2 separate regions of the Homo sapiens genome follow, and region 2 is linked to region 1. Evidence: fine-mapped expression QTL. Tissue or cell type: regulatory T cells. Region 1 holds a variant in brackets; the other region holds the start of a gene. All regions are shown on one strand. Distances are between the middles of the regions.

The links. PIP is the estimated chance that this variant, and not a neighbour inherited with it, causes the effect.
Region 2: it holds the start of ASIC1, and the variant in region 1 is fine-mapped to the expression of ASIC1 in regulatory T cells (Schmiedel 2018, PIP 0.95).

What each region holds. Positions count from the first base shown.
Region 1 is chr12:50,130,201-50,138,302 of GRCh38, forward strand. It overlaps CERS5 (ceramide synthase 5), which reads right to left. Exons shown (of 10, transcript NM_147190.5): 6 at 7,528-7,620; 7 at 5,741-5,869; 8 at 5,532-5,638; 9 at 4,346-4,502; 10 at 1-494. The coding sequence ends at 345. Among named protein-coding and RNA genes, the nearest start is that of COX14, 22 kb to the left of the region's middle. The variant G/GAAAAA (reference allele first, on the strand shown) is at 3,871.
Region 2 is chr12:50,053,190-50,061,291 of GRCh38, forward strand. ASIC1 (acid sensing ion channel subunit 1) reads left to right here and starts at 4,407. Exons shown (of 12, transcript NM_001095.4): 1 at 4,407-4,727; 2 at 5,562-5,939; 3 at 6,570-6,765. The coding sequence starts at 5,578. RefSeq lists silencers at 4,210-4,369, 4,440-4,609.

The DNA of each region.
Region 1 (8,102 bases):
CCAAATGTGGAACTAAGGTGGGTTCAGTGGGGACCAGGGAAGGCCTCATGGCCCCAGTCCACAATTGTGCCCCAACCCCGGCAATGAAACTCACGCATATGCACAAACGCACATCAACAAACACACAAAAACACACAGAGCAAATAACATTACTGAAAGAACCTGGAGGCTATTAAATACAAAATGGCAGTTTTCTTTCAAAGTGAAAATATTTGCTTCTTTGATACTCCTCAGTGCCTTGCAGTCTCCCAATCACAGAAGAGTAGATATGGGAAGGGCCAAGAGGAGTATGTTGCCAGTGGCCCTACAAGTCCATGTGTGCTGAAGTCCCTATAGCAACCACCTTACTCTTCAGCCCAGTAGCTGCCTCCCATGTGACCATTCACCCGATTGGCACCATTGCTGGAGCTACTGTCACAGGGACTTTTTGTGCAGGTGGTCACATCTTCTTCCTCTGAGCTGCTCTCCACATCACTGCGATCATCCTTCGATACCTGGGTGGGATGAGACCAAAGACAGAAAAGTGAGGAAAGAACTGTAAGACACCTAAGCTCAGAGACCCAGGTGTGGGCACTGTGTTCCCAGTCTGGTCTGCTTTCTGATGACATCTAACTCAAAGAAGTATTGTCTGGACTATGGCTACTGTTGTGACTATGCTTTACCTGCTTTCTAGTTTTCTCCCTTGTCATCTCCAATTCTGTTCTCTGTGGAATTGAAGCTACTTTGGTAGAGGAGTGTGTCTTTCAGGACCAGCCTAAGAGAACTGACATCATTCACTGAGACCTGGTTTAGGTTTCAGACACCCTTTCTCTTCTTCCACTTCAAAGAACAGGGAAGGCCAACACGAACAATACGTATGACTGTCAGCAATGCTTCTATCTTCTGGTGGTTGTGGACAATGCATTTATTCGTATTGGTTATGCTGTTTTGCTTTATCCCCAAAGCTGATCCATAACAGGCCTTTTTTAGTAGTTTCCCACTCCTGGGCTCAACTACCACTATCCTATGACACTGTTTTCCAATCTTCTTCCCTTTCCCAATAGCAAGATCACTTTTCTTATGAAACTTCAGCATCCCTGGCTGGGCGTGGTGGCTCACGCCTGTAATCCCAGCACTTTGGGAGGCCGAGGCAGGCGGATCACAAGGTCAGGAGTTTGAGACCAGCCTGAGCAACATGGAGAAACCCTGTCTCTACTAAAAATACAAAAATTAGCCGGGTGTGGTGGCGCGCACCTGTAATCCCAGCTACTCAGGAGGCTGAGGCAGGAGAATCTCTTGAACCCCGGAGGTGGAGGTTGCAGTGAGCTGAGATCGTGCCACTGCACTCCAGCGTGGGCGACAGAGTGAGACTCCATCTCAAAAAAAAAAAAAAAAAAAGAAAAAAAAAAAGAAACTTCAGCATCCCCAAGATACACAGTATAGTGAAAACACAAATGGATTGGCAGTCAATGAGAAAAGAATCCCAGTTCTAATCATGCTACCATCTGTGAATGCTTATTAACCTGGGTTTTTTTGTTTTGTATTATTTTCAAATGAAGCATTTGGATTACAGCAGCATTTCCTAATCTAAACTATCCTGCATATCAAGCAAAGTATTTCAATTTCTCCACCATGAGCCAGGCACAGTGGCTTACACCTATAATCCTAGCACTTTGGGAGGCTGAGGGAGGAGGACAGCTTGAGCCCAAGAGTTTGAGACCAGCCTGGGCAACATGGAGAGAGCCCTGTCTCTACAAAAAATAAAAAATGACAAAATCAGTTGGGCATGGTGACATGCACCTGTAGTCCTAGCTACTTGGGAGGCTGAGGCAGGAGCATCTCTTGAGCCCAGGAGGTCGAGGCTGCAGTGAGCCATGATTGCGCCACTGTACTCCAGCCTGGGCAATGGAGCAAAACCTTGTCTCTAAAAAAAAAAAGGGCCGAGCATGGTGGCTTACGCCTGTAATCCCAGCACTTTGGGAGGCTGAAGTGGGCGCATCACCTGAGGTCGGGAGTTCGAGACCAGCCAGACCAACATGAAGAAACCCCGTCTCTACTAAAAATACAAAAAAATTAGCCAGGCGTGGTGGCGTATGCCTGTAATCCCAGCTACTCAGGAGGCTGAGGCAGGAGACTCGCTTGAACTGGGCAGGCAGAGGTTGCAGTGAGCCAAGATCACGCCATTGCACTCCAGCCTGGGCAACAAGAGCTAAACTCTGTCTCAAAAATAAATAAATAAAAATTAAAAAAAAAAAATTACCCTGGACTCTAATAGTAAAGAACAGAAATCCAGTGAGACCTGTGTCGGACTTCTGACCTCCAGAACTGAAGGATAATAAATGTGGTTTAAGTAAAGGAGAGAAGGAAGTGAAAAGGAACACAGCTGTAACAACTGTTGCCAAGGAGGTGGGCATTTGCTTTGGATCAGCTCCTTGAATTTGTGTTGGATGGGTCTTCTACAGTTGATTATAGCTGTTGGCCTCTGAACTTAGATGACTAACTGATTACCTGACCTTTAGGAAATTTCCACTAGAGGGCAGAGTGTCTCTAGATTTGAGGTAAACAGAGACTCAAGAAAAACAAAAAAAAGTAGACTCAATTCTTGCCTCAGTTTAGGAAAAAATCTGGCAACTGCAGCTCTAGTCAATAATGGCCCCGAAAAGTCAGGAGAGAGGGCATGCTCTGAGACAAACACAAGGGAACAGAAAGGAGAGCAGGAGGAAAGAGAACCACATTCAGATGGACATGCCTCACTGAATACTAGAAGCACAGATACACTTACATGCAAGAGATGAAACTGTCCAGCTCCCGCCAGGCATAGAAAAAAGGAAGGAGGTGAGGAAAGAGTGGAGAGTACAGGGTCTAATCCTTCCTGGACAGGTCACCTAGTCAGGAAAGAAAAGCAGGAGAGAACAGAGATGTCCAGTAGCTACAGCAAGATGCACAGGCACACTGAGCAAGTTCTGAGCCAATGGCAGCTATAAGGAATAATGATGCAGGAGATCATCAATATCTAGGCCACATTCCATCACTTGGTCCTAGTATCAGTACCTGCTCAAGCAGAGCCCCTCCCACTTGGGATTCTGTATTCCTTTAGGCTGAAATCCCTAGCCCTTTGACTACAGTCTGACTGCTTCAAAACTTGCAAAGTTCAATTATGAGTTTATCATTAAGTGGCACCTTTCTTTCGCTCTTGGCATAAGATGGGTATTTGAAACACTACATACCCATTCACTTAGGACACTTGCCTCATACACTAGTGGGGTGAGGTGGGTATTTAGTTCCTTATATAAACCATATCTTGAATATCACAGCATGGTCACCTTGTGGTGGCTTGTGAACTACCACACACCACTTCTAGGCAACTTAACAATCTGCTTTTATACAGTTTATATGGTTCTGCATATGATTTCCTTTGAAAAGGGCCCCATGTCAAAAAGAAAAATATGAAATCCACTGAAGCAGGTAGGTAAGGGGTAGGAAATGGTTGAGGCCATCTCTTAAAAAACTCTTAACCCTATCATCCTTTAACAAAAGCCATTCCTAAGGGACAGGAAGAAGGTAGAACTTTCCTCTTGCGTCTAAGTCACATCTTAAAAGGTAAAACAGGCAGGCCAGGTGCGGTGGCTCACGCCTGTAATCCCAGCACTTCGGGAGGCCAAGGTGGGCAGATCACAAGGTCGGGAGTTAGAGACCAGCCTGGCCAACATAGTGAAACCCCGTTTCTACTAAGAATACAAAAATTAGCCAGGCCTGGTGGCATGCGCCTGTAATCCCAGCTACTAGGGAGGCTGAGGCAGGAGAATCGCTTGAACCCAGGAGGTGGAGGTTGTGGTGAGCCAAGATCGTGACATTGCACTCCAGCCTGGGCAACAGAGCGAGATTCCATCT[G/GAAAAA]AAAAAAAAAAAAAAAAAAGGTAAAACAGGCTTGGTGTGGTGGCTCACACCTGTAATTCCATCGCTTTGGGAAGCCGTGGTGGGAGGACTGCTTGAGGCCAGTAGTTGGACATTGGCCTGGGTAACATAGTGACACCCTATCTACAAAAAATAAGAAAATTAGCCAGGCGTGGTGGTGCACACCTATAGTCCCAGCTACTTGGGAGGCTGCAGTGGGAGAATCCAAGCCCAGGTGTGAGGCTGCAGTAAGCTATGATCATGCCACTGAACTCCAGCCTGGGTGACAGAGCAAGACCTTGTCTCTAAAATAAAAAAGGCAAAACACTTACCGAAGAGGCGAAGACTTTGGAGCCCTAGGCTTTTTGCTTGGCCTGCTTGAGTAGATGGGGCTCACCAGGTTTGATGGAGAGAGAACGTCTGTTGAGTAATCCCTATCTTCCATACCCAAAAGAAAGAAGCCATCTTTCATCCTCACCTTTCCCCTGATCAAGGCTTTCAAAGCAATCCGTGCAATTAGGTAGGACCAGATGACATGCAGAAGCTGTAGGGTCAGCAGCAGGCCATTGAGGAGCCACCATGAAGCATAAGGCCCGATTATCTCCCAACTCTCAAAGAGGGTCGTGTTCAGAATCCTAGAAGAGGGAGGCCAATAGTCAGATTCTAGAGTCAAAGCTCAGCAGACAGGGATGAAGCTGAGTCCTGGGGATGCAGAGCCCTGTGTGTTTTCCTACCAGCCCTTTTATCAGCTGAAGTTCCAGGGACCGTCATCCACAGTAAGAAAATAAAGAAAGGGAGGAGCCTGTTGTGTTTTCTATCCTTAGGGACAGAGAAAGATATATAAATCTTAGGAACTGATGGATTAAGTCACATTATTAATCACTTCAAATATCCAGAGTTTCACGAAATTAGGACAGCAGTGGGACTCTAATCCTATGAATGACTGAGCTCCTCAGGCACATATAGGATAGGACAGTAGGTAGCTGATTCCCATAGAGCAGTGAATGTAAAAGTGAAAGGAGACAGGGAGAGAGAGGAGAGGGAGGGAGGGAGAGAGAGGAGAGGGAGGGAGAGAGAGAGGAGGGAGGGAGAGAGAGGGGAGGGAGGGAGAGAGAGGAGAGGGAGGAAGAGAGAGAGAGGAGAGGGAGGGAGAGAGAGGAGGACAGGGAGGGAGAGAGAGAGGAGGGAGGGAGAGAGGGGAGGGAGGGAGAGAGAGGAGAGGGAGGAAGAGAGAGAGAGGAGTGTGTGTGTGTGTGTGTGTGTGTGTGTGTGTGTGTGTGTGTCAGGGTTGGGACCAGAGCAGGAACACAAGCAAGAAGGGACTGAGAATTGTATCAACAGTGCAAAAGAAGTCAAAGGAATTACTTAGGCATAAAATGAGGACTGTTCCTCAGAGATGAGTCAGTCCTGAGAAGCCAACCAAGCCGGGTACTCTGAGTCTGGATCCGACCTTGCTAGAAATACGGTCTGAGGCAGCAGAGGTCCTATGAGAGTCCACAGAAGGTCAGCACAGGCTAAGGTAAAAGCAGGGCAATAGGGTTCTTGTGTTCTATTGGCGAAAGTAGAATAGAATAGAACAGAAAAACTGAATGGGCAAAATGAGAATTGGCAAAAAGGTATCATTAGGCTCATACCTACCACAACTCTACAGCCCTACCACTTACCAGAATGGATAGATTCCTAGTCGTGTAACCATAAAAACAGCACTGAAGATCACAAAAAGGGTGTCACAGAGCCGCTGATACTTGGCATAATTGGCCAGTTTGGCTGCCTGGAGAAAGGAAGAAAGAATTGAGCTGGGGAGAAAGTCATTCCTCACATAGGAAGAAAAGAAGAGAAGAAGAAGATGGAGAAAGAGAGATTGGGTTTTTACCTCCAGCAAGAAGTCTGAGACATCATGTAGACACATGATCAGAGTTCCCACTCGAACCATATTGTTGATGTAGGAGAAGGAGATAAGCCCAATGGTGACCAAGTGATGCACAAACATGATCAGGAAGTCCTAGGAAGGAATGGAAATAGAAGAGGGAGGTAAAAGCTGGGCCCTAGAAACACCAGCCAACCCAACGTCCTGCATTATTCTCTAAGAATCTTACCCCACCCCATATAGAATAGTTTCCATTGGCCGGGCGAGGTGGCTCATGCCTGTAATCCCAGCACTTTGGGAGGGCAAGGTGGTCGGATCACCTGAGGTCAGGAGTTCGAGACCAGCCTGGCCAACATGGGGAAGCCCCGTCTCTACTAAAAATACAAAAATAAGCCGGGCTTGGTGGCATGTGCCTGTAATCCCAGCTACTCGGGAGGCTGAGGCAGGAGAATTGCTCAAACCTGGGAGGTAGAGGTTGCAGTGAGCTGAGATCGCGCCACTGCACTCCAGCCTGGGCGACAGACTGAGATTCCGTCTCAAAAAAAAAAAAAAAGTTTCCATTCTGCTTAGACTCTCCCTTGGCTACCTAGCATTTAACTGAACACTCCCTACATCAGTGACTGACCCATACTCTATGTTAATGCAGCTCAGAGGCCAGAAAGTAAAAATTTCCTTTGGTAACTGCAGAATACGTATAGCATGGATGCTAAGCTGACACTTGGGGATAACATCCCAGTAAGACATACAAGCCTTAGAGTTCCCTGAGATTCTATGACTCTTCTGCTTTAATGAGAGAAACGTCAACCACAAGGACCTAATGGAAGGGAGAGGTTTGTGGCTCTAATTTCCTCTTGGGTTCAAATGTCAAGTTAGACCTGGGGAAGTCTCTAAATACTTGAGTTATCAGACACATCTATTAAATACTTCTCAGTTTATTATTTTTAAAACTTAAATATGTATTTCAAACTTTCTTATATGTATCACAATTAAAATAAAATTTTAATAAAGTGACCTGTGTCTTCTGACCATAGGAGAGTAAAAGGCATAAAAATTGAGTATCAAGTTTCTATGTTAGATAACACTAACAACCTGGGTAAGTTTTAATTCATTCCCATAAATGCTAACCCTGGTTTTCTTCATCAAAGATAACCCTGAGTTAGTGACAGATTAGGGTTAGAGCTGCTAGAACCACATTATTTCAGGTAGACACTAATAAAAAGGTAAAGATTCTGCCTTTAAATGACTTAAGTTGTGTAAAACTTAAGTCATTTCCAACTCTGTCACTATCTGGGCAAGTCAGCTCACTTCTCTCAATCTTTGCTTCCTAAACAATAGCAGGAAGAGAGCAAAACCCCTTCCAATTGACTTTCTTTGAGTAAGTGGGGTAACCAGAAAGGGAGAACAGAGAGAGCAAGGGTCCCTAATGCCATGTGAAAGCCATATCCAGCTTTTCTGGAATCAGACATTTTTTCTGAATAAGGCATTGCTATCCCCCAATTCTGACTAGTTTCCTGAGCTTTAGATATGTAAGAAGCTTAAAGAAGAATATGGAAAAAAGTATGCTTCTTAGCTGGTTAATTGTTCTCATCCTGGGGCTTCCCTGAATGTCTTAAATATACTTCATCATTAATTCAGTCTCATTTCTGGGAACATTACGACAAGCTAAGAGTCCATCAAACCCAGTTTCTCCTTTTGCAGTCTCAGGGAAGATAATACATCGTAATGGCAGTCATGGAAGCTGCTAGAAAGGAGGATGTAATAAGTTGGGGAATTGAGGGAGCCAACGTCCTTACCTTTCTTTTAATGTCTGTAAACTGAGAAAACATAAGGGACCAATAGAAGGCCAATTCCATGATATAATAGTGATAAAGCCCACTTGAAAGAGGCTGGAAGAGAGAAAGAAGTAGTTAGATTACCGGCTAGTCAAAGGTGCATTCCATCTCTCCAACTTTCTCTGCCTTGGAGGACCAATACCCCAAATTATTAGACATCTCTCCTCCCCATTATCTGCCAAGATATGCAATAGCTAACAGACTTTGGATTGGTGTAGAGACTTAAGCCTCTTCCCTTGCTCCTCTGCACACACATCTTCAGCTCTCATCTTGCAGAGATGAGATACAGTTAACACATACTGTAACACAATCAAATCAGTATGTCTAGGATTCTGGGCAATTAGTGCTTTTCACAGGATTAAATACACATAGGCCTTCTCTTCCACCCCTTTAGCAGTTCCTAGACATATTTCCAGTATAGGTTACAACCAAGATGCTCTACTGGGATTCCAAGTTACCCTTGATACAAAAAAGACACCTGAACCAGAAAGTACCTCATTAAATACCAGAAACTTGCTTTTCTTTTAGCCCAATTA
Region 2 (8,102 bases), 77 kb before region 1:
TCTTCACCCATCTCTGAGAGGCTGGAGGGCGCTTCTGCACCTAAAGCAGATGGGGCCATCTGCAAGGGAAGCATCCATGGGGAATTTGCCCCCATCAGCCTTTCAGGGATGATCATAATGCTTGCCACTATTGATGGAACACCCCCTACTGTTTGCTAGACACACATTGTTTCAACAGCATGGGCATTAGCTGGGTTTTATGGTTTCTGGAGAAAAGTGAGACTCAGGCTAGGTTACTTGCCCAGGGCCACACAGCACTGGTGTGACAGAGCTGAGATTTGAACCTAGGTGAGCACAAGGCCAAAGTCCTAAGTGGGCCCTGGCTAGATGCCTCCTGCCAGCAGAAGGAGAAATATCTTCAGGCCTGTTTCCCTCTCAGTCCGTGGTGGGGATAAAGGGTACTGAGGTCTAAGGACTGCAGGGTCCAGAGAAAACGAAGCATGGAGAAGAAGCTGGGAGGATGCTGAAGGAGCCAGTATCCTCTGTCAGGACTTGGACAAGGGGTGGGTGGGCCAGAGAAGCAGAAAGAAGTAATGAGACACTAATCACAGCCCTTGGATCCCTCAAGTGTTATCTTACTAAGGCCCTGCCAACACCAACTTCCTCTTTTCCTCATCCTTGTCCCACAAACCCCTGTCAGAGTGACTGCCCCCCTGCCTCTCTCTGCTGGCAGCCCTGGCTCAGCCTTCTATTTCACTCCTGGCCCTTGCACTAGAGTCACAAGTCAACATGTTTGTCTCTCTTTCCACACTGGGATATTTTGAGGCAAGGACTCTGCCAATCCTCACCATGTCCACAGGGCCAATCTTGGGGCTTGATCCAGGAAAACCCTCGGTGAAGGTTTGCTGCGATGTACAGGGTAGGGATGAGGGGATGTGTGTGTGCAAGGACCCATCACTTCTCAAACGAAGAAGAAACAACAGCATGAGGGATTTAGGTTGTATATAAGAAAGAACTTCCTAAGACTGGGGCCTGTGACACTATGAAACCATAATTCAGACCCATAAGTTCTGAAGAGCAAGGTTGCTCAAGATTGGCTATATGTTAAAGGCCTCAAAAAGTTGGGCGATTGTCCGGGCGCAGTGGCTCATGCCTGTAATCCCAGCACTTTGGGAGGCCAAGGTGGGTGGATCACCTGAGGTCGGGAGTTCAAGCCTACATGGTGAAACCCCCAGCTCTACAAAAGATACAAAAAATTAGCCGGGCGTCGTGGTGTGCGCCTGTAATCCCAGCTACTCGGGAGGCTGAGGCAGAAGAACCTCTTGAACCGGGGAGGCGGAGGTTGCAGTGAGCCGAGATTGTGCCATTGCACTCCAGCCTGGGCGACAGGGTGAGACCCCAACTTAAAAAAAAAAAAAAAAAAAAAGGCCGGGTATGGTGGCTCACGCCTATAATCCCAGCACTTTGGGAGGCTGAGACGGGTGGATCACAAGGTCAGGAGATTGAGACCATCCTGGCTAACACGGTGAAACCCCGTCTCTACTAAAAATACAAAAAACTTTGCCAGGTGTAGTGGCGGGTGCCTGTAGTCCCAGCTACTTGGGAGGCTGAGGCAGGAGAATGGCGTGAACCCAGGAGACTGAGCTTGCAGTGAGCCAAGATCGCGCCACAGCCCCAGAGATTCTGATTTAACTGGTCTAAAGTGGAGCCATGGCATTGCAGTTTTTTTTTTTTTTTTCTGAGACAGAGTCTCGCTCTGTTGCCCAGGCTAGAGTGCAGTGGCACGATCTCCGATCACTGCAACCTCTGTCTCCCGGGTTCAAGCACTTCTGCCTCAGCCTCCTGAGTAGCTGGGATTACAGGTGCGTGCCACCACGCCTGGCTAATTTTTGTATTTTCTGTGGAGGCAGGGTTTCACCATGTTGGCCAGGTTGGTCTCCTGACCTCAGGTGATCCACTCACCTCGGCCTCCCAAAGTGCTGGGATTGCAGGCGTGAGCCACCACGCCTGGCTGGCATTGCAGTTTTATCTTATTATTTTTATTTTTTGAAATGGAGTTTCGCTCTTGTCTCCCCGGCTAGAGTGCAATAGCACAATCTCGGCTCACTGCAACCTCCGCCTCCCAGGTTCAAATGATTCTCCTGCCTCAGCCTCTCGAGTAGCTGGGATTACAGGTGCCCGCCACCACGCCCAGCTACTTTTTGTATTTTTAGTAGAGATGGGTTTCACCATGTTGGCCAGGTTGGTCTCAAACTCCTGACCTCAGGCGATCCACCCTCCTCTGCCTCCCAAAGTGCTGGGATTACAGGAGTGAGCCACCGCGCCCAGCTGGCATTGCAGTTTTAAAAGCTCCCCAGGTGATTCGAATGTGCAGCCTGGGTTAAGAACCAGTGCCTTAGATTCTGCCCTGGTTTGGCTGCACTGGTGGTTTTACCACTAGATCCAAATGCTAATACTAATAATAGTTATTTACTTATTGGGATTTACTAGGTACATGCCAATGTACTAAGCACTTTCCATGCGTTAGCTCATGTAATCCTCGAAAAATCCTGTGAAATAAATATTATCTCTGCCTTACAGATGAGGAAACCGAGGTCCAGAGAGGTCAAGGGGCCTGCCTATGCTAATGAATGGCAGGGCCAGGTCTGGAAGCTGATTCTCCTGATTCATACCTTCTGTCTTCCCCCAGACTCCTCCTGAGGCTGCTCCTTGGCCTCAATCAGTCCTCGCCTGCCTCCACCTCACCTCATCACCTTCCCTCCACCCCCGCTGCTCCCTCAGTAACATCCCAGGTGACTGAAGCAATTGCAGCCATTTGAAGAGGCTCCACGTGTCAGTCAGCCTGCGAGCCGCGGGGAGGTGGGGAAATTACAGATGCTCCAAAATAGTGTTCCCCTCCCCCTGAGGATATTTGGAATTCAGGAATCAGACTCTGCCTGATGCTTCCTCAGGTCTCTGGGACCCTCCCAGGTGATTTCCCACTCTCAAATGCCCCCCACGAGTTGATTCTAAGTATCTGGGAGAGGGCTGCCACCCAGTGGCTGCCCGGGGGCATAGCAACCCTCCAGCACTGCCTGGTACCGCTGAACAGCTCCCCAAGACCTGAATGGAAGATCCTCCCTTCCTTTTGGCAGCTCCGTGTCCAGTCCCCTAGTAAATGGATCTCGACCTCCCTCCTCCACAATCTTAAGTCCACTCTCCCACTAGGGACCTCCAGACCCCTTCTCTGGTTTCCTAGATGTCCACTACTCCCAACTTCTCATCCAACTTCTTTCCAATGTGCCATCCCCTTCTCGTTACAGGTTTTCTTCTAACTTAAAGCCCGGCACCATGTCCTAGGAATACACCTCTCACCATCCTTCTCCCCGAGCCGCACCAGCCTGCAAGTAGAGCGAAGGAGCCACTAGAGACAGAACTCTGGTCCCCCGCACCCTCCTCCTCATCATCTGACACCATCAGACCTCAACAGCCTCTGTGCTAAGAGCCCCTAATGAGCATCAGCAAATTAACAACTTCCCCTTGATTGCTCCTTCTCTGTTAATTGGATAGGGAGGGCCCCCCTCCCCAAGGCCTCTCAGAGAAGAGGAGGGAGGCAGGGAAGGAGAAAGGTGAGAGCCACAGGAGCAGCCCCCAGGCCTGCGTTCTGTGCTGAGACTTCTGCTCCATCCCTGAGCATAGCTCCCCGTTCCAACCCTTCCTCACCCTGTCCCCTTCACTCCCTTTGCCTCCTTCCTTCTGTCCAAATTCCCTTGACCTCTGGCTATTTTTCCTTCCTTTTCTCTGCTCCTTCTTTGGAGATTTGGCAGTAAGGGGTTGCGACCATGCCCCCCACAAGCCCAAAGCTACAAGGATGGGATCTGAGTGGTCAAGGCTGCGTGTTGGCTCACATATGTGCACGTGTATATGTGTCACATGCAGGTGGGAGCAGGGATAAGAGCAGGTGAGTGCTTGCCATGTGGGTCAGGCCCCCGGGATACGTGGACATCTGTTGCGGGGGGGTGTGGTTGTGAATGGTGTGGTGTGACTCTGGTCGGTATGTGTGTCTGTCTCCATATGGGCTAAGTGCTTGAATTAGTCAAGTGTGACTCGGAGCGTGTGTGTGTATGTGTGTGTGTACGCGCGTGTGTGCCACCAGAGGAAGCAGCAGCAAGAGGCAGGAGCATCGATCCGAAGGAGACAGCGCGGGGAGAGGGACGCTAGGGGCAGACACCCTCCCTCCTGCGCGCACACACGCGCGCGCGCACACACACCACACACAGAGTCATACACACAAGCCATAGGGCCTCGCAGGCAGGGAGACGGCTCCGGGACTGGAGAGAGGCAGCGCCGCCGAAAGCGGCCGCGAGGAGGGGCGAGGCGGCGCGGGGAGCCCTGGGTCCCGCTCCCGGATCCGGGGCCCCGCGCGCACACCAGCCCAGAGACAGCCTCGCAGACACTCGTAGGCGCGCACGCGCACCCTCTCCCCTCCCCCTCCCCTCCCGCCGCCTCCCGGCCGGACGATGGATCCCTGCAGATCCCAGGGCTGAGAGCACCGCGCACCGCGCCGAGCCCGGGCAGACCGAGCCGAGGCGAGCGAGCCAGCGAGCCAGCGCGCGCGGGCGGGCGGACAGATCGGAGCCGAGCGGGGCCGGGCGGGGCGCTCCCTGCAGGGCTCTGCGCGGCGTGCCGCGGCGGCCGCGGGCTCCGGCCCCGGGCCATGAGCCCCTCCGCGACTCGGCGCTGAGCCCGCCACCGGTCCAGCGCCCCAGGACCCGCCGCCGGCTGCCGGCTTGCCGAAGCCCCCTCAGGTGGGTTTCCGATACCCCTGCCTTTGGCCGCGAGGCTCCTCGGTACCCCGAAGCCGGGACTCTCCTCCCTCTGGATTTCCCTTGCTGCTGGGGCGGCTCGGTGGCTGGGGAGGGGGGCGGGGGCCGAGCTGGGGATCTGACTGCGACGAGAAGCTGGACTGGGGGGGGCTGCGTCCGGGGCGGGGACAGCTCGCTGTCATAGGGAACCGCGCCCCCCCTCCATACATCCACCTCGGGCAGCCCGCCACCCCCCACTCCCAACATACACACAGCCTGCGCTTATGTGAGAACTGGAGACACCCGCAGGTGAGGACTCAGGCTGGGCCCCTCCCTAGATGTAGCCACCTCCCTGGGGGTTTTCTGGCCCCAGTTTAGCCCTTAGGACCACAGCCCCGTCCAGGGAATACCCGTGACCAGGACAGGAGCTCCTTACCCCGGGGTCAGCCCATCTGGGTGAGTTTTCATCTCCAGGATGGGGTGGATATTCTTGTCCCAGAGTGACCCCACATCTGGAGGGAACTCCTGCGCCTGCCTATGGGTGCATCAGGACTTCCCCCTCAACCTCGGATGACTATATCTGGGGTCTCCCCGGGCCTGGGAAGCTTCTCTGGGGAGCATTCTCTTGGCCTGACCTGACCCCCTGTGCCTCTGTATTTGGAGGAACCCTGGATGTGTCCCTTGGTCAGCCACCTCTGGGCTTGCAAAGCAGGGAAGTCTTCTGCCCGAGGAGTGGTGACCTCTGGAGATGAGGATTCTGGATGGGCACATGTGGAGGGGCTCCATGTGTACTTTCATCCCAGGACAATGATAGACTGTCCCTCCCTCCTCCCCCAGGATCCCCTCAACAAGGATGGAACTGAAGGCCGAGGAGGAGGAGGTGGGTGGCGTCCAGCCGGTGAGCATCCAGGCCTTCGCCAGCAGCTCCACACTGCACGGCCTGGCCCACATCTTCTCCTACGAGCGGCTGTCTCTGAAGCGGGCACTGTGGGCCCTGTGCTTCCTGGGCTCCCTGGCTGTGCTGCTGTGTGTGTGCACGGAGCGTGTGCAGTACTACTTCCACTACCACCATGTCACCAAGCTCGACGAGGTGGCTGCCTCTCAGCTTACCTTCCCTGCTGTCACGCTGTGCAACCTCAACGAGTTCCGCTTTAGCCAAGTCTCCAAGAATGACCTGTATCATGCTGGGGAGCTGCTGGCCCTGCTCAACAACAGGTGGGTGGCTCCCACCCTCCCTCAGCCCTGCTCCTGGAGTTGCTTGAGTTCCAGTCAGGATGTCTGCCTCCCTGACCCACCATAGAGCCCAGCCAACCCTGCCCTTTAACCCACCCCCACCCCCAAACCTGCCACTCACAGCAGAGGAGTTAGGGTGCTGCTGAGCACCCAGTTAAGGGCACCCAGCCTCCGATCCCAGCATAGTCCAGAACAGCTCGACCCCCACCCAGCCTGAGGTATGAGACATTGTCACCCTCTCTGGAGTGAGCTTTACCTTCATTCTGGCCACTCTGTCTTGACCTTCTCGTCAGTTGGGGGATGGGGACAGAACATCTTTAAAGGGTAGAAACTACAGTATAAAAGCCACAGCCCCTGCCTTGTCTCTCTGCCCACCTTATCCATGCTTCCTCTCACCCATGTGCTGGGATGGGATGCCCTGCCCCTGGGCAGCCACTACAGTTCCTCCTGTCATTTCAGACCCATGTGGTAGAGCCTCTGCATGCCCAGCTCTCCTTCCTTGCCTACACCTGGGACTGATCCCCAGGGCTGGAGGCTGCCCCCATCACCCAAGTTGGGTGCAGGACACTGATGACTGTACTGACCCGTGTGTCACTCACCCCCGGACCCCAGGTATGAGATACCAGACACACAGATGGCAGATGAAAAGCAGCTGGAGATACTGCAGGACAAAGCCAACTTCCGCAGCTTCAAACCCAAACCCTTCAACATGCGTGAGTTCTACGACCGAGCTGGGCACGACATTCGAGACATGCTGCTCTCCTGCCACTTCCGGGGGGAGGTCTGCAGCGCTGAAGACTTCAAGGTGGTGAGTCCCCTCGTGTGGGGTGTGAGTCAGCCTGGCCCACAGAGGAGGAGGAGGAGACAAGGAGCAGGCTGGGCCTCTCCGGGTGCTTGCTACTCTGGGAGAGGAAGTTGTATGTCCTGGGGTTTGCTTCTAGTAGAAGGGGAGTTTGTTCAGCATAGGGGCACATTTGCACTCACTGCATGAGCACCTGAGCCTCAGCCTTGCAGCCATGATGGCAGGAAAGAGAGCCTACAGTGCACAACACACACATATATGCACACACGTGCGTGGTCTGGCATAGCCACAAACCCACCAAGCTTACCTTCTAGGCCACAGGTGTCAGAGCTGAGCAGACAGGTGGGTAAGCTACAGCCGTGTTACTTGTAGTGAGGTCCAGGACCATCAACTGGGAGCTTGAAAGGAATGCAGGACTTTGCCACCCCACTTCCCAAACCTACTGAACCAGAATCTCCATCTAATAAGATCCTCAGGTGACTGGAGTATACACTAAAGTTTGAGAAGCACCGTGAAGCACAAGTAAGGGAAACCTTCTCTTAAATAGCCAGACAGTAACTCCCTGTGTGCCATCCGCACCCCATACATAGACACATACACTGTTTGGTTAGGTTTCCTGCTTGCCGGCAAGAGCCGCAGAGCCAGGATCTGAGGAAAGGAAGGCCATCGGGACACCCAGTCATGGCTGCCCTGGAGGCTTCCTTTGCATCTTAAAATGGAGATGCCCCACAGATGTGGCTGCCTCAGGCCAGCACCTCAGGGAGGGCATAGGGAAACTGATTTTGGCATCTGATGTGCTGGGCAACCCTGGGCAAGTCACACAGATTCCTGAGGGTTAAGACCTGGACCCAGATGGCAAAGAGACCAGAGGCTCCAGAGCCATGCAGGAACAATAACACCAAATGAATGGACAATGCTTGTAACTCTTTCAAATGCTTTCTAGGCTCCCCTCAATCCCCTTGATACATAATCACATTACCTCTGTTTTACAAATGCACGAAACTGAGACACAGGCAGAATGATTTACCCAAGCTCACACAGTTAGTGACAGGTGACAGGTTCAGGATTAGAACTCATGTCTTGTTAAGCTGAAAATGTCCTTTACTCTTTTAATTAATATTGTGGACCCTGGGGTTATTGTGTCCACTTCAAATTCTTGCCAGTCTTTTCCAGGACCCTTTGCTCTCCATGCCTACTCAGCTCTTGGATTCTCTTCCTTCTTCCTGCCTATTTTCTCCCCGCTTGCTTGCTTCCTCCTGCAGTATGGGAATATGAACTGTATTTGTGCAGAAAGGATGGCACCATAGTCATGCTTAGTGTTTCTAGCTGTGCAAGACCTCCCA